Homo sapiens: one gene and its partners. Each later gene encodes a partner of the first gene's protein in a complex. Each region holds a gene or a part of one and is shown on either strand. Other genes may lie near its edges. The genes, in order: MED4, MED31, MED21 and MED12. A codon is read from its position in the direction of its gene.

Region 1 (7,185 bases):
TGTTTCATTCTTTTTTTATTTTTTATTTTTTGAGATGGAGTTTTGCTCTTGTTGCCCAGGCTGGAGTGCAATGGCGCGATCTCGGCTCACCCCAACCTCCACCTCCCGGGTTCAAAGAATTCTCCTGCCTCAGCCTCCCTAGCAGCTGGGATTACAGGCATGTGCCACCACGCCCGGCTAATTTTGTATTTTTTTTTTAGTACAGATGGGGTTTCTCCCTGTTGGTCAGGCTGGTCTCGAAATCCCGACCACAGGTGATCCGCCGGCCTCGGCCTCCCAAAGTGCTGGGATTACAGGCATGAGCCACTGCGCCCGGCCTAGTGTTTCATTCTAAATGCAATGAGAAGCCACTGGGTTATTTTAAACAGGGAAATGGCATGACCTGATTTATACTTTTAAAAACTGTTGAGTGATCTGGTAAATAGACTGTAAGAGGGCCAGAACAGGAAGTAAGTTAGGTGGTTTCTGTAGTGTTCCAGGCAAAAAATGACACTGGTTTTGACGAGGTTATAGCCTCCAGGACTTAGTAATCGTGATGGGAGAAACATGGACAGATTTCAGATATCTTTTGGAGGTAGAGCTAACAGGACTTGCTGATGGATCAACAGCGTATGAAAACAGCATGTTAAGTAAACTTTTTAGTGTACGCCACAAGTGAGACATAGACGGTTGAGAACCTCTGGTCTAAGTAAAAGCTGGTTTCAGGTGGGGCAGGAGTGGTGCTGACTAGAGTGGGGCTATGGTAGGAGATGTGGGATAAGCCTTCCTCTGTTCTTGCAAATCTGGGAGCGTGAGTCCACAGAAGGCTTTACAAGGCTTGCCTTAGGCGCCGGAGTAGAGGGGAGGTAGAAGTCTCTAAGACTTAGTCATGTTCTGTAACAGTCCAGGACAAAATAGAAACCCCTGTCCTCCCCAACTGCGAAAAAGAGGCCAAAGGAAGCCCCCACACTCAAGAGCCCTGTCCTGCTAAAAAGAAGGTGCATTCCCAGCATACTGCATTAGAATCCAGACACAATTCCCCATAGAAATAAAATTTCCATAGCGGTTAGAGCCTACATTATTAGCAGTAATACACTTTTCAGGTAAACAGAATTAACAGGCTGGTGTGGAAAACTCAAGATTCCTATCAACATGGTTCTGTGGAACAATGAGTTTTGAGTTACAAATGGGTTAAAAAAAACGTTTAGCCTACAACCTGTGTTTCAACTTTTTAAGACTATCTCCTTGCATTACATTTTATAAACTAATAAATATCCCGAAAGGCTATATAATCAGGTTAATAGAAAAAAAAAGATCCTAAGTTATAAATCCACTATTTTTAAAGAGGCTAAATCTAAAAATATGTAAGGTATATTCGTGATTTTTCTTCTCATTTTCATAAATGCAAGCCAGACACAAATTACATTCAGAGACTGACAAACTTCACAGATCACAGAATCAGTACACATAACTACCTCTGAGTGAACACATGAGACCTTTCTGGAAGCCAGTCACACCACCAGAGCAGCTTCATTCTGTGAAGAAGTTCCAATGATCCGCCCGCCTTGGCCTCCCAAAGTGCTCGGATTATAGGCGTGAGCCACCACACCCGGCCCTAATACAGTTTATTTTAAACAGTGGATCAAACACATAAGCCATTTAATTTCTGCTGTCTAGGTGTTTTCGGGTTTTCTTCCATCATTAAATATTGTGCTGACCTGGTAACTTGGTAGCAATACGATGGCAAGGACTAAATTTACACCAAAAATAAAGTGCTGATTATATCACGTATATTTTAAAATACAACAGGTAAGATTTATTCTAAAGCTGTCAAAGAATGTTGGCTATAGAAAAAGTGACATTTGAGCTGGATTCTGAAGGATATATGAATCATTCACCAAATCGGGAGTAGACTGGGAATGGCACTGAAGATGTGGAAGTCTGACTAAAGAATTTGAACTTTACCTCACTGGACAACGCAAACCTACCAATGAGGTAGCTTTTATATAATTTTTCTGCAGAAAAGTGATATAAGATGCCTTTTAAAACTGGTATCGGCCAATATAAAAGGATAAAGTGCAGAAGCATGAGGCAATTAAAACTGTTTGGGAGGCTACATTTAAGAAGGAGTTATGAACAGCGGGGTTGGAACGAGAGGGCAAATTGGAGCGACACTTTAGGAGGTAGAACCAAGATAATTTACCATCCAAGTCAATGGGAGGGAGTCAAGGAAGGCTTCAACTTGAAAGACTTATCATGAAAGGTGACAGAATATGAAGAACGACATCTAATTTCATCTCCTATCTCTGACACACAACCATCCTAAACAACTTGCAACTCCACCAAGCCAGGCTTTTTGCACTTGCTGTTCCATCTATCTGTGCTGCCTAGTGAGTTTGGCGAGCTCATGCTTCCCAAGCAGCACTTTCTTCAGAGGGCCTGCCCTGACTACAACCAAAAAAGGTGCCTAGTCCCTGTGCTCCAGTACCCCGCAGCGCAGCCCTCTAATAAAAACAGGCCCCAAGCCAGTTTACACATCTGTCTCTCTCTCGACAGCTGGCATCCAGTCTACCCTTCACTACCGTCTCCCCAATGCTGAGCCCCCAAGGAGCGTTCCATAAATGTTAAGTGGCTGGCCGCGGACGAAGAGGCTCAGACCGCGCGAGTTCTTATCATTACTAAAATTCCCTCTAACGGGAAAAACCGCCGCCCAGAGTGCCAGAGGGCTGCGGACCCCACGTCCATGACCCTCATGCACCCGAAACTCCCGAGCTGGCCCTCCCCGCCGAACCCCGAGAACGAGCACAAACGCAGGGCCGGCCGGCTCCGGGGTCAGTCCCCCGGCCCAGCTCCAGCCCGGCTCTCAGGCTCGCCGCATTACCTAGACAGGACCTCCAAGTCCTCAAGCGCAGACAGCAGCCGCTCTCGTGTGCTGTTACCACCCGCCACTCCCAAACCGCCTCCCAGCCGCTCCTTCTCCTTCTCACCACTCGAAGACGCAGCCATTTTCCCCAGAGTCCCGCCACCGGCGCACGCGCAGAGCGAGCTGACGCAGGTGCGTGGCGAGAAGGCGGGCTCGGAAGGCGGAAGAGTCACCCAGGAGAGGAAAAAGAGGCCTGGCGAGAGCGCCCCCTTTGGGCCTGGAGGCGCACTGCGGACACCGGCGCCATCTGTTGGGCCGGCGAGGGCTTTCTGGTCCAAACCCTGGGAGCGACAGCTGAACTGAGAACAGTGGGGGCAACGCAGTCTGATTCTCCTGGGCCTAATGGTTTTTTTTCTTTCTTTCTTTCTTTTTTTTTTTTTGAGACGAGTCTCGCTCTGTTGCCCAGACTGGAGTGCATCGCCGCGGATGTCTTGGCTCACTGCAAGTTCCGCCTCCTGGGTTCACGCCATTTTTCCTGCCTCAGCCTCCCGAGTAGCTGGGACTACAGGCGACCGCCACCACGCCCGGCTAATTTTTTGTATTTTTAGTAGAGACGGGGTTTCACCTTGTTAGCCAGGATGGTCTCAATCTCCTGACCTCGTGATCCGCCTGCCTCAGCCTCCCAAAGTGGTGGAATTACAGGCGTGAGCCACCGCACCCGGCCCACCTTAACCATTTTTAAGTGGATAGTTCAGTGGCATTAAATACATTCATACTGTTGAGCAACTATCCATCTCCAAAACCTTTTATCTTGTAAAACAAACTCTGTACTCACTAAATGCTAACTCCTTATCCCTCCCTTCTCCAGGCCCTGGCAACCACCATTCTACTTTCCATTGCTGTAAGTTTGGCTACTCTAGGTACCTCATATAAGCAGAATCATACAGTATTTGTCTTTTTGTGTCTGGCTTATGTCACTCAGCATTATGTCCTCCAGGTTCATCCATGATGTAGCATGTGCTGGAATATCTTTCCTTTTTAAGACTAATATTCCATTGTATGCATATGGCACCTTTTGTTCATCCATTCATCTGACGATGGACAGTTAGGTTACTTCCACATTGCTATAATCCATCTTTATAGCCATACATCTTCCAACAAAATGTTTTGCTCATTACTCAGGTTAATTATTGAACTGAAGGAACCAATACAGTACATAAGTAGTAGTTAATTAACATAGTTTAAGTCATTGATGTACCACACATTCCAAACCAGAACTGGTTGTCAAAGGCAAAAATACGTCTTAGCCTACTTTTCCTAGGGATAACAATGTAGTAGGGATCACTCTCTACCAGAAAAAAGCAAAGTTACAAGCCTATTGGGAATGAGGATTCCATATTGCTATTATAAAAGATGGTCTGGGACTGCCTCACTCCCATGAGGTAGTAGTACCTGTAGTCCTTTCATTTCAGGGTCTCATCCTCTACTCTGTCTTTTTGGAGGTGCTAAACCTGACTCCTGGGCACCCAGAGTTGACAAGTCTTTTAGAAATTCATGTTAAATAAATTCACTCATAGCAACTGCTGCGTAATCTAGAATGCTGATTTACTCACTTACGATGAAAAGTAATAGTGCCAAACATATCTTTTTCCCATAGACAAAACTATATGAGAAGCCATATTATCACAGGATGTTGCTTGTTAAACTTGGATCAGAACAAACAAGGATAGATTAAAAATTAATGACACAATCATGAGGCTTTGTGTCTCCACAGTGTAGGGATATTTGTGTTCAAGAGATTGGATTATTTGTGTTCATAGGTCAGGGTACCTTTTCCTCTAGACAGTGCAAGAGATCCTTGTCACCTTTTGTTTTCTGACCGTTCCCTGCATCTGCTGTTGGCTAACCCTTTTTTGTTAATGCAGTCAATTCTCAGGCAATGGGCTAAAGTAGATTGAAGCTTTGTTCATTACACTTGCATTCTAAACATGCCTCTCAGTACTCTAGTCAATCATTTCTTATGTTAAGTTTCCAGGGTGCCAAACTTCTGCGGTATGTGTTGGTTTTGTTTACTCAACTCTCACGGGTCATATTGAGCCATGACTCTGGTAGGAGGAGAGAGAACATTATATTAGTGTAAACATAAAAATTCTAGAAGGATTCTAATTAGTTAAAAATGACCAATTATAGTCCTACTTTGCAGACACTGAGGATCAGTGTGTGGAGCATGTATGTGTATTGTGAACTCCTGACCTCCTCAGATTTATTGCAAATTCATATGCATATTAAACAGTTTCTATAGACTGATAAGTAATAGCATCTTTCACAGATATACTGTCTTGCAAATTGTACAAATCCAGGCGTGATAAACAAATATGAATTATTTTATATAGTATTACTGAATTCATGGTAATTTGGAGTTAGGTACATATTTTCTCAATCTGTAGATTCAAAAAGGACACTACTTTCTCATGAAATTTTATTGACATGGTGGGCAGTGTTCTAAGCACTTCAAAAATATTAACTTGTTTAATTTTCCTAACACTCCTATGAGGTAAGTACTGTTACTATCCCTATGTTACAGATAATGAAACTGAGGGGCAGAAATGTTAAGACACATGCCGGGGTCATATAGTAAATGGCAAAGCTGGAATCTGAACCCAGAGTCTGGCTCCAGGGTCTGTGCTCTTTACCACTGGTTATCCCAGCTCTCTGTAAAGAAAGAAGGATATTCAGGTACTAAAAGGACTGGGAACCTCTGACCTAAAATATGAGAGGACTTCAAAAAGTTCATGGAAAAATGGAATTAAAAGATAATAATTTAAAATATAAACTTTATTTCTCAACATAAGCTCCATCTAGTTCAAGACACTTTTGTAAATGACGATACCAGCCATTTAGTTCATCCCTAAATAAATGAGGGCCCTTGGAATTTAACCGTGTCAATGCTGTCTTTTTTACTTTTTTCTTTTCTTTTTTTTTTTGCCACAGGGTCTCACTCTCTGTCACTCAGGCTGGAGGGCAGTGGTGCAACCACAGCTCACTGCAACCTTGACCTCCCAGGCTCAAGCAATCCTCCCAATACATTATTAACTGAAGAAAAATGAGTGCCCTTTACAGATTTTATTTATTTATTTAGTTTTGAGACAGAGTCTTGCTCTGTTGTCTTGCTCAAGCTGGAGTGCAGTGGCACAATCTTGGCTCACTGCAACCTCCACCTCCCGGGTTCAAGTGATTCTCCTGTCTCAGCCTCCCGAGTAGCTGGGATTACAGGCATGTGCCACCATGCCTAGCTAATTTTTGTATTTTTAGTAGAGATGGGGTTTTGCCATGATGGCCAGGCTGGTCTCAAACTCCTGACCTCAAGTGATCCACCCCCCTCGGCCTCCCAAAGTGCTGGGACTACAGGCATGAGACACTGAGCCTGGCCCAGATTTTTTTAAGATTAGGAAACAAAAAGAAGTCAGATCAGGACTGTAAGGTGGATGTTCAATGATTTCCCATTGAAACATTTCCAAAATTGTCCTTGTTTGATGAGAGGAATGAGCAGGAGTATTGTTGTGGTGGAGAAGGACTCTCCGGTGAAGCTTTCTCGGGTGTTTTTCTGCTAAAGCTTTTGCTAACTTTCTCAAAACACTCTCATAATAAGCCATTGTTATCATTCTTTGGCTTTCCAGAAAGTCACCAGACAAAATGCCTTGAGCATCCCAAAAACTGTTGCCATGCTGTTTGATCTTGACTGGTCTGCTTTTGCTTTGACTGGACCACTTCCACCTCTTGATAGCCATTGCTTCGATTTTGCTTTATCATCAGGATTGTGCTGGTAAAGCCATTTTTCATCTCCTGTTACAGCTCTTCAAAGAAGTGCCTCAGGATCTTGATCTCACTTGTTTAAAATTTCCATTGAATGCCCTGCTCTTGTCTGCAGGTGATTTGGGCATAACAGTTTTGGCATCCATTGATTGGAAAGTTTGCTCAACTTTAGTTTTTGAGTCAGAATTGTATAGGCTGAACAAATTGAGATGTCTATAGTGTTGTCTATTAATTGCTTGTCCTCTGCAATTAGGGCACAAACAAGATAAATATTTTCCTTGCAAATTGATGTGGATGGTCTGCTGCTGCAGGCTTTATCTTCAACATCATCTCATCCCTTCTTCAAATGAGTTTTCTATTTGTAAAACTGCTGATTTCTTTAGGGCATTGTCCTCATAAACTTTTCATAAAGCATCAAGATTTCACCATTCTTCCACACAAGCTTCACCATCAATTTGATATTCTTGCTTCAATTTTAGTAGAATTCATATTGTTCTGATAGGGGCTCTTGTCAAACTGATGTCTTATCC
Region 2 (7,942 bases), on another chromosome or scaffold:
CCGGCTTCAGAAGGGCTTGGAAGGTCTGCAGCAGAGGTGGCGAGGCCGCTGGAGGTTTGAAATGGCTTTTAAAATAGAGAAACCGGGAGGACCGACGACCGCTCCGGCGACCGCAGTTTCCAGGCACCAGAGCTGTGTGGAATGAGGGGCGCTCAGGAGCATCCCCTTAATTCCAAGGAGATCGAGTAGCGGAAACATTTATTGAGCGTTTACTGTGTGTCACCAACTGCCCACCATAGGGAGGAAAAAAGGGAGGAGGGAGCGCGCCTTTCCACCTTCCGTGCCCCGTCCCCTCACCATGGAGTCGCGGGGCCACCTGCTCCGTGCGCATTTTCTCTCTTTCTGGCTCCCTTTGCCCCGCTTTCTCGGAAGCTCGGAGCAAGGGCGTGGAGTGCGGGGAGCAGGGCTCCGCAGGTTCAAGAGGACGCGGGCGATCGGGGGCGGGACGGATATTGGGCAGGGACGCGGGAGATGCTCAGGGTCTAGAACTGACTGCGCCGGATTCTTGTTTAGAGGGAGGTGAAGAGAGGAAGGAGGCGCGGGTGACACCGGGGGAGGCAGGAGGAGAGGGCTGGGAGGTGGGGAGAGGGGAGGACCTCATCCGGGCATGTTGCTTTGACGTTCCCTGAGACAGACATCCGGATTTGGCGATCTGGGAGAGAGCTAGAGCAGTGATGGGAATTTGGGCTTTCGCGGAAGAAAAAAAGTAACAGGACCGGGTAGAACACCCGGTAGATATGACATGAGATATGACGGGAGGTGGGTCGGGAAATCGAGAGCGTTCTCCTGTCTTGACTCCCCATCCCTTCCCTCTCACCACCCACTCCACCCCAGGTGATAAAGCCTGAAAGGTAGAGATCCAACAGCGCTAGCGGTTGAAACGTTTTTTAAAATAGAGAAAGCGAGAGGACCGACGGCGGCTCCGGTGACTGCTGAGTTTCCAGACAAGGGAGCTCTGTGCAATGAGGGGCGCACAGGAGCATGCCCTCAATTCCAAGAAGATCAGGTAGCCGGAAAATTTATTAAGCGCTTACTGTGTGCCACCTGCGTGTTTTCTGTCCAAATCAGAAAAGGATTTGGACAGAAAACACGCAGGAAGAAGGAATCAACCCCTGGTACAGCAGGCAGGCGAGGTAGGGGTAGGAGTTATGCACGTGTATGCAAGCCTGGATGGCTGGGAAGCCAACCTCCATCTAAAGGCAAGCGCGGACATGCACACACACACACACGCCTCACAAGTTGGATTGCAAGAGAGGGTGAAGTGGGCGAGGAGACCCAGTCAGCCGTGGCATTTGAGGAAGGTACATTTAGGCCACCGAATTCATTCCACCAACTTTGCACACTTGTCTTCCTTGTGCCAGGCTCTGGGACTCATTCCTTTTGAGGGTAAAAGTCTGCCTCCCTGGACTCCTGCCCCTCAGGCGCTCCCACAGCCCGGCACCGCCCCCTCGCCATTCCGGAGCCAGCGCGGGCTAAGCGGGCCTGGCCGGGGATGAGCGGAGCCACCGTCCCCATATTCCTCGGTGCCCCGGGACCGCAAGAGGGAGCCGTGGTTTCCGGAACTCCTCCCGCCCCTCCGGGCTTTTCCTCTGTTAGGCAGGTGGCGATTCGCTGTCTTTGCCTGTTATGGCCGCTGCCGTCGCCCTGGAGACAGGTGAGTAGCGCTCTGAGCCTGGAGTCTTCGCAGATAGAACTCTCCTTGGCCCAGACCTCTTCTCCCGCTTCCCCTGGGCCTCCTTCCAGGCCTCACTCCCGGCAGGATTAGTATTTGGACAGGGAGGAGAGAAGGCTCTTGCAGCGTCTAGAAAGGCTAAGGTACTCTGCAGTTTTCCTAATTTGGTTTGTTCGCACACCTTTGCTATTCAAACACGACCCCACCAGCTTCCCAGCGTGGGCGAGACTAAGGGAGAGGACTTGTGTCTTAAAGCGTGTCCTCCTTGTGTCTTAAAGCGTGTCCTTGATTGGTTTTCTGCTTCTCACATGAGCTTGCATACGTTTGAAATATCGTCGCCAGACCTGTGTATCATTGTGTTACTTGTGATTCTTATATATGCATATGTTCCATCATCTTTTAGGCTCTCTGGAGTCTCTTGTTCAGCTTGCATCCTAAGTTTTTCTTAACTGATTCAGCACGTGCTTTTGCGAAACTTAATCACTGTTAACAATTGTTACAATGCATTATTAAAATAGGGGAAGCCACAGTTATTACAGCCTACCTTAGAGATCACTGTTAAAATTCCTACATAGTGGCCCATGAGTGGTAGGTATTGTGTCTCATTTGTGTTGCTGTTTTCTTTGATGATTTCTCTTTACTTTTAAAGGTAACCCTCTTCCATGACTGTTCCTTAAAGTGGTGCGCTGTCCCAGTAGACCATGCTCTAGCTTTCCAAGCTGCTAGAACTGTCAGTGTTTCTCAGCCTTGGCACTATTGACATTTTGGGACCAGTGATTCTTCATCGTTGGCAGAGGGGAGGGTGTTGACCTGTGCACTGTAGGATGTCAGGTGGCATCCCCGGACTCTACCCGCTAGGTGCCAGTAGCACCTAATGTGCCACCCACCCCCTCCCAACAACTTTTCAACCAAACTAAAATGTCTCTAGAGGTTGCCATATATCCTCTGGGGGACAAAATCACACTTAGTTGAGAACCACTGTCCCACATTCTACACACAGAAGCCAAAAGGATATTTTTTAAATGTAAATGGCATCATGTCGTTCCCCTGTTGGAAACCCTTCAATGTTTTCCTGTTGACCTTAGAATAATCTCAAATTCCTTACTGTGGCTTAGAAGACCTTCTGTGGACTGGCCCCTGCTTGCTTTTAACTCCTCTCTTCCGTTCTGCTTCCATGTCTATATAATTGCTTCTCTCTCACTCCAGCCACACTGGCCTTCTTTCTGTTCCTTGAACATTCAAAGCTGGTTCCCATCCACCCTTTGTATTTGCTGTTCTTCTGCCTAGAATGCACCTGTTCCAGATCACTGTTCATTCACACATATCTCAGATTACATGTTAACTAATCAGCAAGGCCTTCCCTGACCATTTTATCAAAAGAAGCCACTTACTTCCATTCTCTATCACATTACCCATGTATTTCCTTCATAGTGCTAATCACAATAGAAAATTGTCTTGTTTCATCATTGCTTGTCTGCCTTTTCACCAGAGTGTAAGCTCCACTAGAGCTGGGACTTTGCCTTTTTTACTGCTATAGCCCAAGTTCCCAGAATACAGACAGTTCCCAACTTAAGATGGTTTGACTTATGATTTTTCGACTTTACAATGGTACAAAAGTGACATTCAGTAGAAATAGTACTTTAAGTACTCTTACAACCATTCTTTTTCACTTTTAGTACAGTATGCAATAAATTACATGAGATATTCAACATTTTATTATAAAACAGGCTTTCTGTTAGATGATTTTGCTCAACTTTAGGTGTTCTGAGCATGTTTAAGGTAGGCTAGGCTAAGCCATGATGTTTAGTAGGTTAGGGGTATTAAGTGCATTTTCAAATTACCATATTTTCAACTTACAATAGTTTCAACGGGAGGTAACCCCATCGTAAGTGGAGGAACATCTAGTGCCTGGCACAGAGCCGGTTCTCAATAAATATAACTCTTCTCCATCTTCTTCAAACCTCAGGCCAGGTTTCAGTGACCTCCTCTCACTTTCTAAGATTATTTTTGCTTGCTGGTGGGTTTACTGTCATTTTTAACCACATCTAACCTACCTTAAAAAAGTGTATGGATGGGGGTGCCAGGTACAAAGACTTAGCATAAAGAAAACGACCATTTACTTTGAAACATAAACAAAGGCCAATTAATAATTTATGAGTCTGTTCCTTGTCCCTCGAGTTTTTAGCAGGCATGGAATCATTCCACAGGTCATTATTTCAGTTTGGTCTCTGTTCCTAAGGGGTGAAGGTTTTCTGAGGGCTGTGGATCCCAAACTCACCTGGCTCAGAGGCTCAAACAGCCTCTCTTTGTCCATCAACCCGATTTAGACAGCATCCTGGGCCTGAAAACCTTCTGTGCTGGCTTCAAGTGAAAATAGTTCACTGGGTCAAAAGTAGGCTGGTCCAAGACGCAGGACGGTCAGTAAACGTTGGCTGTGTTCAGAAACTGCGGCTTGGCTGTTTCTTACATTGATTTATGGTTTGTTTCCATGAAACCGAAAATGATTGGTCCACCTGGCAGCTGGCTGGCTGGCTGGCAACTGGAGGCCTTTCTGTCCTGGCTGAGGGCCCTGGCCCCTTGGTGGCCTTTGGGAAGCAGCATCTCATCGGGCCGTTTTTTCGTTCTGGCGGGCGGCCGGCTTGGCCCGCGGGGTCGGGCTCTCCGCGCAGTGCAGAGACGTCTCCACCCTCAGGGACGAGGCTCTGACGTGGCGGGAGGTCGTTTCCGTGCGCTGCGAGGAGGATTCCACGTGCCGGGAGGACGCCTCGAGGATGCGAGGGAGCCGCTTCCCCGAGGGGGAGAGGGAGGGCCCCTCGCTGCGGCGCTGGGAGGTCTCCACCCGCCGGGACGACGTCTCCACGCGGTGGGACGAGGTCTCCACGCGGACCGTGGACGTCTCTGTGTAGCGGGTGGTCCCCACCCGGGGCGAAGACTGCTTGGCCCCTCGGGCTGAGGCCATTCTGCCGGCGTGAGGGGGCCAGGGAGGCCTCGGGGCACCCTACAGCCCAATGGTCACCGCAGGCAGAAGAGAGGAAAACTACGGTACTGCCATAGCCGGGAGCGCCACAACACGATGACGTGGAAGCACCATGGTCCTTCGAAGGCTAAAACACTGGACTCCTGCCCCTCAGGCGCTCCCACGGCCCGGGCCCCGCCCCCTCGCTATTTTGGAGCCAGCGCGGGTGGAGCCATCCCAGGGCTGGTCGGGGATGGGCGGAGCCGCCCCGCCCCATATCCCACAGTGCCCCGGGACCGGAAGAGGGAGCCGTGGTTTCCGGAACTTCGCCCGCGTCTCTGGGCTTTTGCTCTGTCAGGCTGGTGGCGTTTTGGTGTCTTCGTTTGTTATGGCCGCTGCTGTCGCTATGGAGACAGGTGAGTAGCTCTCTGATCTTGGAGTCTTCGCAGATGGAACTCTCCTTGACCCAGACCTCTTCCCCGTGGCCTCCTTCCAGGCCTTACTCTTGGCAGGGTTAATATTTGGACAGAGAGGAGAGAAGGCTCTTGTAGCGTCTAGAAAGACTAAGGTACTCTTTGCAGTTTTCCTGATTTGGTTTGTTCGCACATCTTTGCTATTCAGACACCACCCCACCAGCTCCCTGGCGTGGGTGAGACTAAGGGAGAGGACTTGTGTGTTAAACCGTGTCCTCCTTGATTGGTTTTCTGCTTCTCACATGAGCTTGCCTAAGTTTGAAATATCGTCGCCAGACTTGTGTATCATTCTGCTACTGGTGCTTCTTTTTTTTTTTTTTTTTGAGACAGCGTCTGGCTCTGTCGCCCAGGCTGGGGTGCAGTGGCGCGATCTCGGCTCACTGCAAGCTCCGCCTCCTGGGTTCACGCCATTCTCCTGCCTCAGCCTCTCAAGTAGCTGGGACTACAGGAGCCCGCCACCGCTCCCGGCTAATTTTTTTTGTATTTTTAGTAGAGACGGGGTTTCACTGTGTTAGCCAGGATGGTCTCGATCTCCTGACCCTGGTGCTTCTTATATGCATGCGCTGCATGATCTTTTAGGCTCTCCGCAGTCTCTTGCATCCTAAGTTTTTCTTTACTGATTCAGCCCCTAGCGTTTGCGAAACTTAATCACTGTTAACAGTTGTTACAACGCATTATTAAAATAGGGGAAGCCACAGTTATTACAGCCTACCTTAGTGATCACTGTTAAAATTCCTACATAGTGGCCCACGAGTGGTAGGAATTCTCCGTTTGTGTTGCTGTTTTCTTTGATGATTTCTCTTTAACTTTAGAGAAACTTCTAACTTACTCCTTTTAATCAGGGCTCCGCTTTTCTTAGATTTCGAAGGAAGGTTTATCTCCTCCCACTCCTAGTTTAGGAAGACCATCTCAACATTAGTCAGGTTTCTTTATTGCTCTTTCCTTACTACAAATCAGTATTATATACAGTGACCTTTGTTTTCCATGATTTTTGCTGTCTTGTCTCCTAGATGATGCTGGAAATCGACTTCGGTTTCAGTTGGAGTTGGAATTTGTGCAATGTTTAGCCAACCCAAATTACCTTAATTGTAAGTTGTTAAGCACCTCATTAAATTGAGTAGCTATTAATGATTTCTGACAGAAGAGTTGCAGTTCAAAATAGTATCTACTTTTACACATTCTCAGTTGAATGACATTACACTTATGCTGGTATATAGATATAATTGCGTACTGGGACTTGTGTTTTGAATCCAATGTGTGTTGGTGGTGGGGGTGTTATGTAAATAGATCCTTTATATTAGGGGTAACAAATCACAGTTTAAGGATTGGTTTGACCTACAGATTTTTTTTTTTAATGCTTTTCAGTTCTTGCCCAAAGAGGTTACTTCAAAGACAAAGCTTTTGTTAATTATCTTAAATACTTGCTTTACTGGAAAGACCCAGAATATGCCAAGTATCTAAAGTAAGTTTAATTTTTATAATCCTAAGCATGTGTATACTTTATTATATAATAGATTTCTTAGTTTCACATTGGCAAAAATGTATTTGGAATCTCTCCACTTCTTTTTGTTATCACCGTCTTAATACAAGACACCCTCATCTCTAACTTGTAACACTGCAGTAATCTACTCCCTGGTTATCTGTGCTTCCACTTTTACCTTCCTGCCCCCATCTCCACCCCAACCCAAACCAAGCAAAACAGCTTTCTACACAGAAACCAGCTTAATCTTTTAAAAATATAAATCAGAACACTTTACTTTCTTGCTTAGAACCTTTCAATGGCTTTCCATTCCATGCAGAATAAAATCCAGTCTTTTTTCTTGGACTAAAGCCTTATACGATCTGGCCCTGCCTTTTCTGACCTTGTCTTTTACCACCCTTCCCATCTCACCAGGTTTCTGGTCCCTAAGAACTCACAATCTGTAAATGTAGTAGCATAAGCCATGGGCTGAAATTAAAAGAGGGTATCTGTAAGGAAGGTGTTTCTGGGGTTATTTGAAGGAGGTGATCTTACCTGAGTCTTAGAGTTGCTGTCTTTTATTTAAGGCCTCTTATTTGCCAGGAACAGTGCTAAATGCTTCATATGCATTAACTCATTTATATATATATATTTACCATTCAGGTCGTTCAGCAGACACTTTCATGTTAAGGCTTACTAAGTTGCAAGAAACATATTATAACCACAAAGCAATTCCCTTTTAATGGTTAAAAAAAAAAAACAAAAAAAACAAAAAAAACCAACCCACCTTGAACTCACACCCCTGCTTTGTCTTAAGCAGGTAGAAAGCAATAATGAACCTTTAAAAAAAAAAAAAAGTTTGAGAGGAAAATGTTTCAAACTTCTCTCAAAGTCACTTTTCTGTGTCCAATAACAATTGACTCACGAAGCACATACGTCTTATGTTGCCTGCAGGACCGTTTGCACCTTTTCTGGCTTTTTATCCATTTAATAATCCAAAGAACAGACTTTTAAGAAAAGTAGACTTCAACGAATATTGTATGTATGTAGATTTACAGACTCAGTGTTGGAAGCCTTAGCCACCAACAAGTTTAATCTTACCCACAACGTTGCCGAGAGATGGTCATCTACACTCTGGAGGTTTCCATTGAGCCCGTGTTACTCTGTCAGGGACAGCTGATTCGATTGTTAGCCAGATATTAGAAAGTTCTTCCTTATATTGTGATATAATGTACCTCCTTGTAGCCCCAGTCTGTTTGTCCCTGGATGAAGCTAGAACCATTCTATACCCTCTTGAGGACAACAGCCTTCCAGATATTTACATTCAAGAGAGACTGCAAATTAGCCCCTTTTGGGTGTTTTATTCAGTCTGCAGAAGATTT
Region 3 (7,954 bases), on another chromosome or scaffold:
CTTATCTGTGTTTTACTGTCTGCTCTTTCTGGCTGCTTATAGTTAGAAGAGAAGTGATTTCCTTGAAATGCATGAGGCTAGAAAGGGAGCTGGAACTTAAAGTGGCGGTGTTTGTCCGAGATGACGGTGCTCCTGGTCTGTCACCAGACTCAAGCAATCCTGCCACCTCAGCCTCCAGACTAACTGGGACTACTACAGGCTCACACCACTGTGCCTGCCTTGTTTTCTTTGTAGTATGCATTCCTGGTTATGTACATAGAAAAAAAGGTTGAAAAATATATGCCAAAATGTTTAAAATAGTTATCTTTAGGTGGTTAAATTAAGAATGATTTCCTTTGCACATTTCTGTGTAAAAGTTCTACATTGAAGTGTATCATTTTTAAATAAGAAATTATGATTTTGTAAAAGATACATATAATTTTAAAGGTTTTCTTATAAAAGCATTCAAGATATAAGTCCACCTTCCTGAGTATGACACATAAATGCTTTTTGTGATGCAACTCCTGCTCACCTCCCTAGGTTCTTGCTGCAACTAAAATCAGACCTCTACATGCTGGCCACATTGAATTAATTTCAATTTCCTGAACTGAGCCTATTCTCTCTCCTCCATACCTTTGCATCGCAGTTCCCCAGGCCTGCAGTTGCCTGTGCATGCATGACAGTTGATGACAAATGTGTCAGCAATCAGAACAGGGCCTCATTACCTTGGCTTCTAAGTACAGTATTGTGACAGCTTGGGAGGATGATTGGCTGGGGTTCCATGCTCATGTCAGAGTTCCATTGGAGAGCTGAGAAGCAAACAAGCTTAGCAGCTTTGCAGATTAGTTCATTTTTCCTATGTATTGAAAGGAAATGCAGAAACTGAAAGATTCCCAAATCCAAGATATGCATCATTAGAGGCTTAAAGTCTGTTTAGGCCAGGCGCAGTGGCTCATACCTGTAATCCCAGTACTTTAGCAGACCAAGGCAGGAGGATCTCTGGAGACCAGGAGTTCAAGATCAGCCCAGGCAACATAGTGAGATCCCCATTCTTACACACACACATACACACACACACACACACAACCAGAAAAAAAAATTAGCTGGGCATGGTGGGGCACATCTGTAGTCCTAGATACACAGGTGGCTGAGGCTGGAGAATTGTTCGAGCCTAGGAGTTTGAGTTTGCAGCGAGCCATGATTATGCCACTGTACTCCAGCCTGGGTGACAGAGCAAGACCCTGTATCTAATAAAACAAAAGTCTGTTAAAATTTAGAAGAGGAAGGAAGGGCAGGAGGGAGAGAAGGAGGAAGGGAAAAAACTTACCCTAGCTTTTTAAATAAAACCTAAAATACCTTAAATGGAGCTGGGAGTGGGGATCCAGGGAAAAGGCAGGATTGAACCTCTGTGAAATTTGCCCATTCATTCTTTCCCACTCTAATCTCACCTTCATCCTGTATTTTTTAATTCTTATGCTCTTTTGTGGGTAGTAATTTACATTCTTTGTTCATTAAGTTAAATTCAGTAAATGCTTGTTTAGTAGCTATTATATGGAAATTATTATGCTAGGAAACTCATTCATTTGGTTGATAAATATGTGCCAGGCTAAAAGTTAGGTGCTAGGTACTGGAAATATGGAAACAGAATATGTTTTCTGCCTGCAAGTAGCCCATGGACTGGTGGGTGAATTAGCGTGATGTACAAATAATTACAGCACAGTATGCTAAGTGCAATAACAGAAGTGTAAGGAACAATTGTGTTAAAGATTGGGAGCATTTAACTTTCAGAATTCAGGAAAGGCTTTTATAAAGAGATGTTTAAAATAAGATTTTGTTCACTAGTATAGTGGCAAGTAAAAAAAATAATAATAGGCCGGGCACAGTGGCTGACGCCTGTAATTCTAGCACTTTGGGAGGCCAAGGCGGGTGGATCACCTGAGGTCAGGAGTTCAAGACCAGCCTGGCCAACATAGCAAAACCCCGTCTCTACACAAATACAAAAAACTTACCCAGGTGTGGTGGCGGGCACCTGTAATCCCAGCTACTCTGGAGGCTGAGGTAGGAGAATCACTAGAACCCTGGGGGCAGAGGTTGCAGTGAGCTGAGATCGTGCCACTGCATTCCAGCCTGGGTAACAGAGTGAGATTCTGTCTCAAATAAATAAATAAATAATAAAATAAGGTTTGAGTACTGTGTGGACAATCACCAAGGGAGCAAAGTGGAGATGTGGATGGAAGTGTAGGCATTTCATACAAGGAAGAAATAATTATAGGTGTTTTTATATGGTGTGCATTTTTGTAAAACAGCAGAACATGTTTAGGGAATTTCAAAGAGTGTGGTATAGAAAAATGCTTATTTATAGTTATTCATCCCGGCACTAAGAACAGTTTAGATATTTAATAAATTGCAACTGTGAGTATTAAAGTTATTTAAAAATTGCTAAAGGTGTTTTTCTTAAAAAATAGTTGCTACAGTCATAAAAACCAAAGCATTTACAAGATTGACTGAGTGGCTCACTGCTGAAGCTGTAAAGGGTATGCGAGGGTTCACTATACTGTCTACTTTTCTATATCTTTGAAACTTTTAATAATATAAAGTTTCAAAGAAAGTACTCACCAAAATTGTGTGTTTAAAATATGAGATCTGTAATACTGGGTTCCTGCTCCTAAAACCATATAATCCAGTTGGCGATGCAACAGAAGCAAATGGAAAAGCATATGAGAAAGTGTCCAAATCATGAAAGGAAGAAAGGAGAGGTCCCTATGGACTCTAGCAATTCATAAAATTTATATGAGAAGTGTACAGCTTAAAAAGGTAGGGTAAGGATTAAATAGCAGGAAAGAAATTGCTTTGGGAAAGGTAAAGAATGAGGAAAGAGCTAGACCAGTGGTTCTCAATTGGGGGCAATTTTGCCCCCCAGCAACATTTGGGACTATCTGGAGATACTTTATGTTGGCATAAATGGATTGGGGGGATGCTACCGGCATCTCAGGGGTAAGGGACAGGGATGCTCTAAACATCCTACAGTGCACAGGTCAGCATCCCACAGCAAAGAATAATCTAGCCTGAAAAGTCAAGAGTGCAGCCATTGAGAAATCCTGAGCTAGATGCACAGACTATATTTGGCAGGTGGGTTATTCTTGAAGTCTACAGCTTCAAGAGCTTCCTAAACCCCTTTTCAAATGTAGGCTAAGTTGAGAGTCTGGTCTGGGGAAAGGGTCCACAGCTTTTATCTGATTCTTAAAAAGATCCGTGGCCGAAAGAGGCTGAAGAACCAGGAAAACCAAGGGGTCAGGGACCTTGGCTGAAACAGATTATTTCACTCAGAAAATTATCAGGAGGTGAGGCTGGGTCTGTTTGCTGGAGCCAGATTATAGTAAATCTTGAAAACCAGGCAGAGATAGTTGGACATCAACCTGAGGTCTCTGTGGAGGCACAGAAGACCTATTAGGAAGATAATGGCAGGACAAAAACTGTGTCACAATATGAATGTCTTGAAGTGGCTTCTCTACTTCAACTGCCCAAGTTCCCTTCAATCAGGCTGCAAAACTTAGTATTCTTATGGAGTGGACTAAACTATATCCAATCAGTCACCAATCCATATTAATTTTTTTTCTCAAAAATATATTTTAGTCTTTCTTTCCCCGCTTATCAGGGTCAACACCCTATTCTAGGCCCAGCTCATCTTAATCTTGGACAACTGCAAAACCTTCCTTAGTGAGTCCTTGGCTTATTCATCTTTGCAAATTGAGCACTGGATATACTTCCTGGCATGTGGCAGCCATTCCGTAAGGTACACTCTCAAGTGAGGGTGGGAGGAGAAGGTTGTAGAATCCCCCCAAGTTACAGTGAAAACAAATTACAGAGTGATTTCTCATTAGTCCCATTATGGGGAACATGCCTCATCCACGTTCTTAATGAGGCTCCAGTAAGTCTGTAGACTGTTTGGGGCTGAGGGTGGGGCATTGGTGTGAAGCAGAAGTGGTGCTTCACAGTAAGTGTTGGGATAAATCCAACAAGCTGAGTTCCCCAGGGACTGTGTCTTCCACCTTCCCCGCAGCCACAGGAAGGTAATCACGGATAATCAGCCTGAGAAAGAGGATATGAGAGTTTTTTGAAGTCTACAAACCTGTTATTTGCCGATTCCAAACTCATTTCTTACCAGACTATCCTCAGGCTAAATTTCCTTAAATACCAAGTTTCGATTATCACTTTTCACACTTAAACTCTCAATAAGTCCCAACTCTAAATCTAAATTGTGCAGCTAATTTTTCTTGGCCGAGCACGGTGGCTCACGCCTGTAATCCCAGCACTTTGAGAGGCCGAGGCGGGCGGAGCACGAGGTCGGGAGATCGAGACCATCCTGGCTAACATGGTGAAACCCCGTCTCTACTAAAAGTACAAAAAAAAAAAAAAAATGCCGGGCGTGGTGCGGACGCCTGTAGTCCCAGCTACTCCGGAGGCTGAGGCAGGAGAATGGCGTGAACCCGGGAGGCGGAGCTGGCAGTGAGCCGAGATCGCACCACTGCACTCCAGCCTGGGCGACAGAACGAGACTCCGTCTCAAATAAATAAATAAATAAATAAATAAATAAATAAAAATAAATATATTTACTCTTCAATTTGGTCAATAAATAAACACGAGAGGGTACGAGAAATTACTTAAAAAAAAAAAATCCCCGCAGAATCCAACAATCTCTGAAGCCTTTAACACCTAACAACCCCAAGGGGAGTATTTCGGCTCTTGGACTGTATTTCAAAGCGATTGGACCCCAGACCATTCCCCCAGTTACTCAAAAGATCCAGCCTCTCCTCAGGTGTAGCCCGCTCTAGAAAGGCCGCCTCGGGAGTACCACCCACTCCTGACGGGGCGGGGAGTTCTCTCCGACCCCACCCGTTCCAAGGACGCAGCCCTGTGATTGGCCATGACGCGTGCCAGAGCTGCCCAGTCGCGGAAGAGCAGCTGTTTTGGCGTCTGTTTGCTGCGGTAGGAACATGGCGGATCGGCTCACGCAGCTTCAGGACGCTGTGAATTCGGTGAGGAATTTCATTCGATTAGCCTCTGTCTTTCTCTTTCTTGAGGTAAAGCAAGGGAGGAAAGGGGCCCAAGAGGCAAAACTTGAAAGTGGGGAGCGGACTGAGAGACAGGGCTTCGGCATAAAGCGCTCTCTCGGGAGGCGCCACCGCGAACTCGGAGGTTTGAGGCCGGCTGCCGGGCGGTGCTTGAAGGTGCGGGAGGGAGCAGACTCTTTCGCTTGAGGAGACCGGGAAGATCGTTCTTGTCCGGGTGAGGCCGCCAGGACTTGTGGGCTGCGCGGTCCTGTCGTGTTCCCTGAGGACAGTTTTATTTTCTTGTCAGTGGTGCTTACGGGTTCTCTTTCTTTTGGGGGTTGGGAGGAGAAGCAGGAGCTTTTTTCTTTCCTCATCAATTTTAATCCACCAAGGGAGATCTCATGCTCTGGATGACTGGGTTTTTGTAATGAAATGTCAGCCGAGAGTATTCCTTCACCAGCGCTTTCAGGTTGGTGCGGGAGCGATGCTGAGGTGAGGTGAGAGATTTTCTTTCATCTTAGCTCGTTCCTTTGGGCCCAGAGTATCCTTCCATCTCTTGCCTCTTGGCCATCCCTCAGAATACATCAGTTTGGGGACATCTTTATGATAGGAAATCTTCTAATCCTCGTATGTCTTTCCGCTTATTTGAGTCTTTTTTCTTTTCTTTTTTTTTTTTTTTTTACTTTGGAGACAGTGCCTTTCGCCCAGGCTGGAGTGCAGTGGCGCGATCTCTGCTCACTGCATCCTCCGCCTCCCGGGTTCAAGCGATTCTCCTGTCTGAGCCAAAGTAGCTGGGATTACAGGCGCCCTCCACCACGCCCGGCTAATGTTTGTATTTTTAGTAGAGACGGGGTTTCACCATGTTGTCCAGGCTGGTCTCAAACTCCCGGCCTCAAGCGATCCTCCCGCCTCGGCCTCCCATAGTGCTGGGATTACAGGTGTGAGCCACCGTGCCCGGCCTACAAGTCCTTTTTAATGTCTCCCCCAAATTCTACTCTCTATTAAAGGCCAAGTCTAGTAAGTAGCTCCCCAGCTTTGTTCCTTCTGGTTATTTTTCCTCCACACTATGCCTGAGTGGAAAGTAGAAGCAAAGCCAGAGGATGCGCAGTCATGGGCCCCTAATGAAGGGGTCATGTTCTGAGAAATGCATGGTTTTGGCGATAACTTTTTTTTTTGTTTTAATAAGTAGAAGTACAATGTAAAATAACGATAAAACAGTAATACATAAACCAGTAACAAAGTCATTTAGTATCATTATCAAGTGTCATGGACTGCACATAATTGTATGTGCTATGCTTTCATACACTGGCAGTGTGGTAGGTTGATTTACAGCAGCATCACCACAAGCACTAAGGAACGCATTGCGCTACAGCGTTAGTACTGCTACGATGTCACTAGGCAATAAGAATTTTTCAGCTTTATTATAACCATAGGGGACTGACATAATATGTGCATCCCGTTGACCAAGACGTCAGTGGGTATTCCCATGCGGCAATGGGTGTACTTATTACCATTACGAGTTAGATTGTTTTCTGCTAAATAGTTTTCCATTGATAGTTATGTTTCTCATTGTCTGATTGTGATTTAATGTCCTAGATAAGGGGCTAGAGAGAAAACATGCTGATAGGAAAACCTAAGTACCTGGTTTCCTTGCCAGTTTTTTTTTTCCTCACTGTAAGCTAATAACTTGGCATTTTTCTTAATACATCAGAATTTGTACACTTGAAGAGTGTGAATCTACTTGTGATAAAACTGATCTACCCTGGGTGAATAACACTAGTTTTTAAGCTGAGAGGACCAGCCTCTAAGTGTTGAATTCACCAAGATAAATTCTACCCTGCAGGGACTTGCCTGGGCTGCCAGCCAGCCTTCCTCAGGGAACTACTCCTTTGAGGTTTTACGAAATCAAATTGTAATGATGCTGCTGGATAGAAATCTTATTTTAGGGAAAATTTTGCATATTCATACATGTCTTGTAACTAGAAGGATAATAAGGACAGAGTGAATATGGCCTTAACTCCAGGTTAGGCATAATGATAATTGGATTTTGGAGAAAAGCCTTTAGGATAACTAGTATGAGTGCCTACTGTGTGTAAGCACCATCATGTTTACAAAGAGATACTCCTAAAGGAGGTTAAAAAATGTCAAATACTCAGGAGACATTTAAGTGATGGAAAAACAGTATGTGGTTAGGGAGTTATAATGAATTGAGTATTTTCAGCTTCAGGTTCTGATGTAAATTGGAATATGGAGTGATGTGAACCAAAATAGGGGGAATCTTCTTAGCATTTATCCTAATCAGAATTATTTGTATAACTTTTAACATTTGTTCTACCCTCTGAAAACCGTGAGTGCAGAAGCTATGTCGCATTCACTATGTCTCTGTAGTGTTTATATGCAGTACTTTAGTTATTTTCCATAAATTTTTGTTGACTAAATGGATCTTAAAAGCTTTTGAAGGATGGAAAAGATAGACACTGTGTTGAATATTTTTTTGTGTGTGTTTCCTCTATTACAACAATGCTATAATAGGAGAATGTATCCAATTTAAAAATGAAAAATGCTGCTTGGATTAATAGAGCTAGGATCAGGATCTAGGTTTGTATAGCATCTGAGCACTTATTGCTCCATTACAATTAGCAAAACCTGGGCAAAGCCATTTAGTCATAAGTGACTTTATGACTAGTTAGATAAATATGAAGGAGTAGTGGAAAACGAGTCAGTAGAGTTGACTTAGATTATTGAAAGCTTCAAAACAGCCTGAGTTGGAGATTTATCTTGAAGACAGTGGTGGAGTAAGCTTAAATGTTTTGATCAGGTTAAAATAAATAACCTGGTGAACTGGAAAACAACAAGAAGACTATTGTAATAATTCTGGTGTGAGATAATTGGTTGAACTAAGCAACAGTGATAGAAGGAAAAGA
Region 4 (7,730 bases), on another chromosome or scaffold:
TCTGGAATTAGCCTCTTCCTAACTTTCTGTAGGCTAAAATCCTTCAGAAGGCAAAACCCCATCTCTACAAAAATACAAAAATTAGCCACGTTTGGTAGCACTCACCTGTAGTCCCAGCTACTCAGGTGGCTGAGGCACAAGAATCACTTGAACCCAGGAGGCAGAGGTTGCAGTGAACTGAGATCGCACACTGCACTCCAGCCAGAGTGACAGAGCAAGACTCTGCCTAAAAAATAAAATAAATAAAATAAATAAATCCTTCAGGGCTACATGCCTATTAGAATAGCCAAAATGGGCTGGGCAAGGTGGCTCACACCTTGCCTGAAATCCCAGCACTTTGGGAGGCTGAGGCGAGTGGGTTGCTTGAGCCCAGGAGTTGGAGACCAGCCTGGGCAACACAGCAAGATCCCATCTCTTGTTTAAAAAAAAAAAAAAAAAAAAAAGAGGCCGGGCATGGTGGCTCATGCCTGTAATCCCAGCACTTTGGAAGGCCAAGGTGAGTGGATCATTTGAGGTCAGGAGTTCAAGACCAGCCTGGCCTACATGGTGAAACCCCGTCTCTACTAAAAAATACAAAAATTAGCCAGGCAATAGTGGCGCATTCCTGTAATCCCAGCTACTTGAGAGGCTAAGGCAGGAGAACTGCTTGAGCCTGGGAGGCGGAGGTTGCAGTGAGCTGAGATTGCACCACTGCACTCCAGTCTGGGTGACAGAGTGAGACCCTGTCTCAAAAAAAAAAAAAAAAATTGCCCAAATCCGGAACACGGACTACACCAAATGCTGGCAAGGATGTGGAGCAACAGGAACAACTCTCACTTGTTGCTGGGGGAAATGCAAAAATGGTACGGTACAGCCACTGGGGAAGACGGTTTGGCAGTTTCCTATAAAACTAAACATACTCTTTCAGCAATCATGTTCCTTGGTATTAACAAAGGAGTGGAGGCCGGGCGCGGTGGCTCACGCCTGTAATCCCAGCACTTTGGGAGGCTGAGACGGGCGGATCACGAGGTCAGGAGATCGAGACCATCCTGGCTAACACGGTGAAACCCCGTCTCTACTAAAAATACAAAAATTAGCCGGGCATGGTGGCGCGTGCCTGTAGTCCCAGCTACACAGGAGGCTGAGGCAGGAGAATGGCGTGAACCCGGGAGGTGGAGCTTGCAGTGAGTCGAGATCGCGCCACTGCACTCCAGCCTGGGCGACAGAGCGAAACTTCGTCTCAAAAAAAAAAAAAAAAAAAAAAAAAACAAAGGAGTGGAAGACTTGTGTTCACATAAAAACCTGCAGACGGATGTTTATAGCAGTTTCATTCATAATTGCCCAAACTTGGAAGCAACGAAGGTGTCTTTCAGTAGGTTTATGGATAAACTGTGGTACATCCTGAAAGTGAAATATTATTCGGTGCAAAAAGAAATGAGCTATTAAGGCCGTGAAGAGACATGGGAGAAAACTTAAATACATATGACTAAGTGAAAGAAGCCATGCAGAAAAGGCCACCTACTATAGGATTCCAACTATATGACATTCTGGAAAGGGCGAAACTATGGAGACAGTAAAAAGATCAACGGTTGCCAGGGGTTGTCGGAGAGGGAAGGATGAATAGGTGGAGCAGAAAAAGTTTTTAGGTCAGTGAAAATATTCTGTAAGATACTACAATGGTGGACACATGTTATTCTTTGTCCAAACTCACAGACTGTATAAAATAACATCAAGAGTGAACTTTAACGTAAACCATGAACTTTGGGTAATGATGTTCAAGGTAGGTCCATCAACTCTAACGAATATACCATTCTGGTGGGTTTGTTGTTGTTGTTGTTGTTGTTGTTGTTGTTTTGTTTTGTTTTGTTTTGTTTTGAGACAGAGTTTCACTCTGTTGCCCAGGCTGAAGTGCAGTGGGGTCATCATGGCTTACTGCAGCGTCCACCTCCTGAGATCGAGTGATTCTCTCCCCTCGGCCTCCAGAGTAGCTGGGACTACAGGCGCCCGCCCCTAAACCCTGCTAATGTTTTATTTTGCTTTTGGAGAGATAGAGGTTCTACCATGTTGCCCAGGCTGGTCTAGAACTCCTGGGCTCAAGCAATCCACCCATCTCGGCCTCCCAAAGTGGTGGGATTACAGGCATGAGCCACCATGCCTGGCCCACTCTGGTGGGGGATGTCAATGGGGGAGTTTATCTATGTGTGAGGGCAGACAGTATATGGGAATTCTCCATACCTTCCTCTCAATTTTGCTGTGAATCTAAAACTGCTCTAAAAAATTCTTTTATGCTGGGTGCTGTGGCTCATGCCTGTAATCCCAGCACTTTCAGAGGCTGAGGTGGGTGGATCGCTAGAGACCAGGAGTTTAAGTCCAGCCTGGGCAACATAGCAAAACCCTGTCTCCACCAAAAAAAAAAAAAAAAAAAAAAAGCAAAAATTAACCGGGTGTGGTGGCCAGCGCCTGTGATCCTAGATACTTGGGAGGCTGAGGTGGGAGGTTTGCTTGAGCCCAGGAGGTAGAGGTTGCAGTGAAGTGAGATTGCACCACTGCAGTCTAGCCTGGGCCACTGAGTGAGACCTTGTCAAAAAAAAAAAAAAAAGAAAAAAAAAGAAAGAAAAGAAAAATTATCTTTTTAAAAATATCCTTCAGGTTGGTGGCTCACGCCTGTAATCCCAACACTTTGAGAGGTGGAGGCAGGTGGATCACCTGAGGTCGGGAGTTCGAGACCAGCCTGACCAACATAGAGAAACCCCGTCTCTACTAAAAATACAACAACAAAAAAATATTTAGCTGGGCATGGTGGTGCATGCCTGTAATCCCAGCTACTCGGGAGGCTGAGGCAGGAGAATCGCTTGAACCAGGGAGGCAGAGGTTGCAGTAAGCCGAGATTGCGCCATTGCACTCCAGCCTGGGCAACAAGAGCGAAACTCAGTCTCAAAATAAATAAATAAATAAATAAATAAATAAATAAATAAATAAAATATCGTTCAGGCTGAGCGTGGTGGCTCACGCCTGTAATCCCAGCACTTTGGGAGGCCGAGGTGGGCGGATCACTTGAGGTCACGAGTTTGACACCAGCCTGGCCAACATGGAGAAACCCCGTCTCTACTAAAAATACAGAAATTAGCTAGGCATGATGGCGCAAGCCTGTAATCCCAGCTACTGGGGAGGCTGAGGCAAGAGAATCACTTGAACCTGGGAGGCGGAGGTTGCAGTGAACCGAGATCACGCCACTGCACTCCAGCCTGGGCAACAAGAGTGAGACTCCGTCTCAAAACAATAAATAAAATAAAAAATAAAATAAAATAAAAATATCCTTCAGAGTTAGTTCAAATGTTACCTCAGCCTCCTGAGCAGCTGGCATTACAGGCGCCTGCCACCACACAAGCTAATTTTTGTATTTTTAGTAGAGATGGGATTTCACCACGTTGGCCAGGCTGGTCTTGAACTCCTGACCTCAGGTGATTCCCTGCCTTGGCCTCCCAAAGTGCTGGGATTACGGACGTGAGCCACCACTCCCCGCCTTGAATTACTTCTTCTTTCCATTGTGATTCAATAGCATTTTGTTATTTTTGTTACTGGTGTTATTTTTGTTTATTGTTATTTGTTACTTTTGTTACAGCACACTGGCTGTCTTTTCTCTAAAAGGCAATACAAGGCCGGCACAGTGGCGCACGCCTGTAGTCCAGGCTACTGGGAGGCTGAGGCGGGAGGATCGCTGGAGTCCAGAAGGTTGATGCTGCAGTGAGCCGTGATAGCGCCACTGCACTCCAGCCTAGGCGACAGAGGGAGAACCTGCCTCAAAATAAACAAATAGCAATACGACAATAGGATATTGGCTCTGGAATTCAGAATCTTAGTGCCAGCTCTGTTACTCAGTAGCTGTATAATATTGGATAAGTGAATTTTCACACTTTGAAAACCAGCTTCCTCCATCCGCAAAATCGAGCCAATAATAATCCCTAACTCATGAGGCTGTGAGCAGATTAAAGGAGATAGTGTCTGAAAAGCATCTGACACAATAGGTGCCTCTTTAGCTAGACCAAGGGTTCTTAACCTGGAGTTCATGGACCCTTAGGGGATACATGGATGAACTTCAGGGGATCTAAGAATCTAAAGCAACATTTTGCATGTCAATATATGCATATTATTATTATTATTATTATTATTTCTGGGAAGAAGGTCCATAGCTTTCATCAGCACCTTTAAGGGTTTGTGAATCAAAAACGTTAGTATGCGGTACCCTTGGGCAGAAAAACAAACAAGAAAAGGTTAGACAACTCGATGGTAGACCTTGAGGGATTAGAGCCAGCCTTTCAGGGTTTAATAGGTTCTTTCTCATGCATACATAGTTTCTAATGTTCACAATAGCCCCTTGAAGGAGGTGTTAGCGCACCTATTTTTCAGATGCCGGAACTAAGAAACGAACTGATCTGTAATAGACGGAGTTCCTAACCAATGCAAATATTATTGAAGACTTTTCTAGGCCAAAACCGAGCTAGGCTATGGGAACCGAAGTCCAGTCAGAACTCAGCACCACAGAGGCCTCCTTCTTCCCTGGTTTGCATCCCCAGCTCATTCTGCGCCTCCGGAACGTTTCATAGATTTTTGCTGAGTGAAATCGACTTGCTGCCGCCACCGCCGAAAAACTCCCGGGGCACAGAGCTCCGCCCCCACCGGGCCAGGCCCCACCTCCTCTGCAGTCGGTATTGTCCGATGGTTCCCGGCGTACCTCGGCTTCCCTCGGTAGTTTCCGGCAATGGTCGAGAGTTTCTAACGTGCCCCCTTGTTGTCTCTCGGCCGCCGTCCTCTCAACCACCGCCCCCCTTTTCGGCTCCCTCTCCCCCTTCCCGTTCCCCCAGTCAGCCTGGCCCTGCTGGTGCCTCCGGCGCTACGGGCTGGGCAAGATGGCGGCCTTCGGGATCTTGAGCTACGAACACCGGCCCCTGAAGCGGCCGCGGCTGGGGCCTCCCGATGTTTACCCTCAGGACCCCAAACAGAAGGAGGTGCGTTCGAAAATCGGGGCTCTGGAGGGGCCGGGGGCACGCGGTCAGCCTAGGAGGAGGCACTGACGGCTGGGAATGGGGGGCGGGGCGGTTCGGTGAGAGCAAAAGTCCCGAAAGGGGGAAGAGTAAAGTGGGCTGGCGTGGGAGGGCAGGACGGGGGGCGGTGGGGGGTTCCAAGGTATGAATAGGGGGTGGTGTAGGGGCCGCACCAGAGGCGCCCTCCTCCACACACACCTCAGAAAGTTGTCTGAGACAGCTTGGTGGGGTACGGCTGCTCGGCTGTTCGCAAGAGAAGAGTGATGTTTGAGGGCGCGCTGGGTGGCTGGGAATCCTAGTGACCATGGGAGTGAGGGTGGGGTCCAAGTGAACGTAAGGGCCCAGCTTTAAGTAACGATCTGTTCTACACGGAACCCTCCTCCTGCCCTTTCACCTTGTTCCTTCTTTTCTCCTGCCCTACTCTCCCACCCCTTCCCCCTTCCCCTAAGGAAAAAACAACTAAACGCCGCTTTCCTGCCTCAGGATGAACTGACGGCCTTGAATGTAAAACAAGGTTTCAATAACCAGCCTGCTGTCTCTGGGGATGAGCATGGCAGTGCCAAGAACGTCAGCTTCAATCCTGCCAAGGTGAGACAACTCTGCCAGGCTGAAGGAAAAGGCTGGAAGAATCTAAGAAGGAGCAAAGGCCCTGGGTTGGGAAGACTTATAGGGACAACCTAAGTGGCTGAGTTTGCCTTCATGACCTAATACTATCTCATTGGCATTTGCCCAGCAAAAGGCAGGACCACCTGTCTGCCCCTTCTTCCCACCCTGAGGTACACTTTTCTTCCCTCAGATCAGTTCCAACTTCAGCAGCATTATTGCAGAGAAATTACGTTGTAATACCCTTCCTGACACTGGTCGCAGGAAGCCCCAAGTGAACCAGAAGGATAACTTCTGGCTGGTGACTGCACGATCCCAGAGTGCCATTAACACTTGGTTCACTGACTTGGCTGGCACCAAGCCACTCACGCAACTAGCCAAAAAGGTAAGGTACTGTTTCCTGTCCTTCAGGCCAAGGAGGGAGCATGGGGTACCAAGTACCCTCCTATTCCCATATTAAGCTACATGGGTGTCAGCTCATGGGGATAATAGAGACCTCACTATTTGCAATGTCCATCCAGGTCCCCATTTTCAGTAAGAAGGAAGAGGTGTTTGGGTACTTAGCCAAATACACAGTGCCTGTGATGCGGGCTGCCTGGCTCATTAAGATGACCTGTGCCTACTATGCAGCAATCTCTGAGACCAAGGTTAAGAAGAGACATGTTGACCCTTTCATGGGTGAGTAACTCCTAACACCAGGTGTACTGCTGATGGCTTCAAGGAGTGATAGAGACACCCTTGGAACCATCCTCCTTCTTAATCTAGATTCCTTGTTTCTGCTTGTTTCTTGCATTTGTTTGATCAGTAAACACTGAGAAATTTGAGTGTCTACTGTGCGCATATACTGGGCTACAAAGATGTCCGGTGCATAATCTCTGCCCCTAGGATACTAGTAGTCTAACAGGGCTGCTAAGGTATATGTACAAATAACATAATTAAATATAGAAAGTGGTGAATGTCAAGCTAGGAGCAGAAGGTTCTTTGAGTGGACAAAAGATTACTTTCTTATGGGGGTACCCGGAAAGGCTTTAGGAAGGTGGGATTTGACTAGAGACTAAAAGGATGAACTGAATTTACAAATATGGTGATTAGGGGTGGGGGTAAGGTATTCTAAGTAGAAGGATTTTTTTTTTTTTGAGACAGAGCAAGACTCTGTCACCCAGGCTAGAGTGCAGTGGCAGGATCTTGGCTTACTGCAACCTCCACCTCCCGGGTTAAAGTGATTCTCCTGTCTCAGCCTCCCGAGTAGCTGGGATTACAGGCGCCCACCACTGCGCCCGGCTAATTTTTGTATTTTTCTAGAGACGGGGTTTCACCATCTTGGCCAGGCTGGTCTCGAACTCCTGACCTCGTGATCCACCTGCCTCAGCCTCCCAAAGTGCTGGGATTACAGGCATGAGCCACCGCACCCAGCCAGTAGAAGGATATTCTAAGCAGAAGGATAGTATCAAATAGCCCTTTTTCCCTCTTTCCTCCAGAATGGACTCAGATCATCACCAAGTACTTATGGGAGCAGTTACAGAAGATGGCTGAATACTACCGGCCAGGGCCTGCAGGAAGTGGGGGCTGTGGTTCCACGATAGGGCCCTTGCCCCATGATGTAGAGGTGGCAATCCGGCAGTGGGATTACACCGAGAAGCTGGCCATGTTCATGTTTCAGGTAGAGAGTAGGGCATGCTGTGTGGGGCATTGGGTTGAGCTTGAACTTGTACTCTGCCAGTAGAGAACAGAATCTGCCTGCCACCTTGCCCCAGTTGTGGTTCTCTTCATCTTTTCATTTACTTTATCTGCTTCATCTCTAATAGTCCCCTCTTCCCTCCCCTGGTACCCATAGGATGGAATGCTGGACAGACATGAGTTCCTGACCTGGGTGCTTGAGTGTTTTGAGAAGATCCGCCCTGGAGAGGATGAATTGCTTAAACTGCTGCTGCCTCTGCTTCTCCGAGTAAGGCTTGGAATTTTGGTACTGGTGGGGCAGGGGGAGTCTAAGAAGAATTTGAGGAAGAATAAAATGTTAGAGCAGGGTCCCCTGGAGAGAACTAGGGGCTCTGATGGTCGTGTCTTCACAGTACTCTGGGGAATTTGTTCAGTCTGCATACCTGTCCC

What was found.
Region 2: the proteins of MED4 (region 1) and MED31 are in contact, whole or in part, in a cryo-EM structure (PDB 8TRH), measured with the Homo sapiens proteins. Residues at the interface, in NP_054885.1 of Homo sapiens: Glu147, Tyr151, Arg154, Ile155, Asn159, Ala160, Val161, Cys162, Ala163, Pro164, Trp167, Arg173, Arg174, Pro175, Tyr176, Pro177, Met182, Leu186; in NP_057144.1 of Homo sapiens: Gln19 (codon at 6,138), Glu23 (codon at 6,150), Gln26 (codon at 6,159), Cys27 (codon at 6,162), Ala29 (codon at 6,168), Asn30 (codon at 6,171), Pro31 (codon at 6,174), Ala64 (codon at 6,550), Lys65 (codon at 6,553), Tyr66 (codon at 6,556), Leu67 (codon at 6,559), Lys68, Tyr69, Pro70, Gln71, Asp98, Ile102, Trp105, Gln106, Tyr108, Ser109.
Region 3: MED4 (region 1) and MED21 share a complex: the UniProt entries of both Homo sapiens proteins name them as parts of the mediator complex.
Region 4: MED4 (region 1) and MED12 share a complex: the UniProt entries of both Homo sapiens proteins name them as parts of the mediator complex.

What each region holds. Positions count from the first base shown.
Region 1 is NC_000013.11:48,092,094-48,099,278, forward strand, and holds the start of MED4 (mediator of RNA polymerase II transcription subunit 4), read right to left. Parts: upstream 3,012-7,185; 5' UTR 2,986-3,011; coding exon 2,861-2,985; intron 1-2,860. UniProt on the Homo sapiens protein: Component of the Mediator complex, a coactivator involved in the regulated transcription of nearly all RNA polymerase II-dependent genes.
Region 2 is NC_000017.11:6,648,603-6,656,544, reverse strand, and holds the start of MED31 (mediator of RNA polymerase II transcription subunit 31), read left to right. Parts: upstream 1-4,939; 5' UTR 4,940-5,016; coding exon 5,017-5,044; intron 5,045-6,111; coding exon 6,112-6,189; intron 6,190-6,466; coding exon 6,467-6,563; intron 6,564-7,942. Other genes in the region: uncharacterized protein C17orf100, read right to left, coding at 4,275-4,631. UniProt on the Homo sapiens protein: Component of the Mediator complex, a coactivator involved in the regulated transcription of nearly all RNA polymerase II-dependent genes.
Region 3 is NC_000012.12:27,017,607-27,025,560, forward strand, and holds the start of MED21 (mediator of RNA polymerase II transcription subunit 21), read left to right. Parts: upstream 1-4,951; 5' UTR 4,952-4,973; coding exon 4,974-5,015; exon of another isoform or gene 5,016-5,265; intron 5,266-7,954. UniProt on the Homo sapiens protein: Component of the Mediator complex, a coactivator involved in the regulated transcription of nearly all RNA polymerase II-dependent genes.
Region 4 is NC_000023.11:71,113,869-71,121,598, forward strand, and holds the start of MED12 (mediator of RNA polymerase II transcription subunit 12), read left to right. Parts: upstream 1-4,727; 5' UTR 4,728-4,886; coding exon 4,887-4,985; intron 4,986-5,504; coding exon 5,505-5,609; intron 5,610-5,817; coding exon 5,818-6,009; intron 6,010-6,145; coding exon 6,146-6,302; intron 6,303-7,102; coding exon 7,103-7,284; intron 7,285-7,458; coding exon 7,459-7,569; intron 7,570-7,693; coding exon 7,694-7,730. UniProt on the Homo sapiens protein: Component of the Mediator complex, a coactivator involved in the regulated transcription of nearly all RNA polymerase II-dependent genes.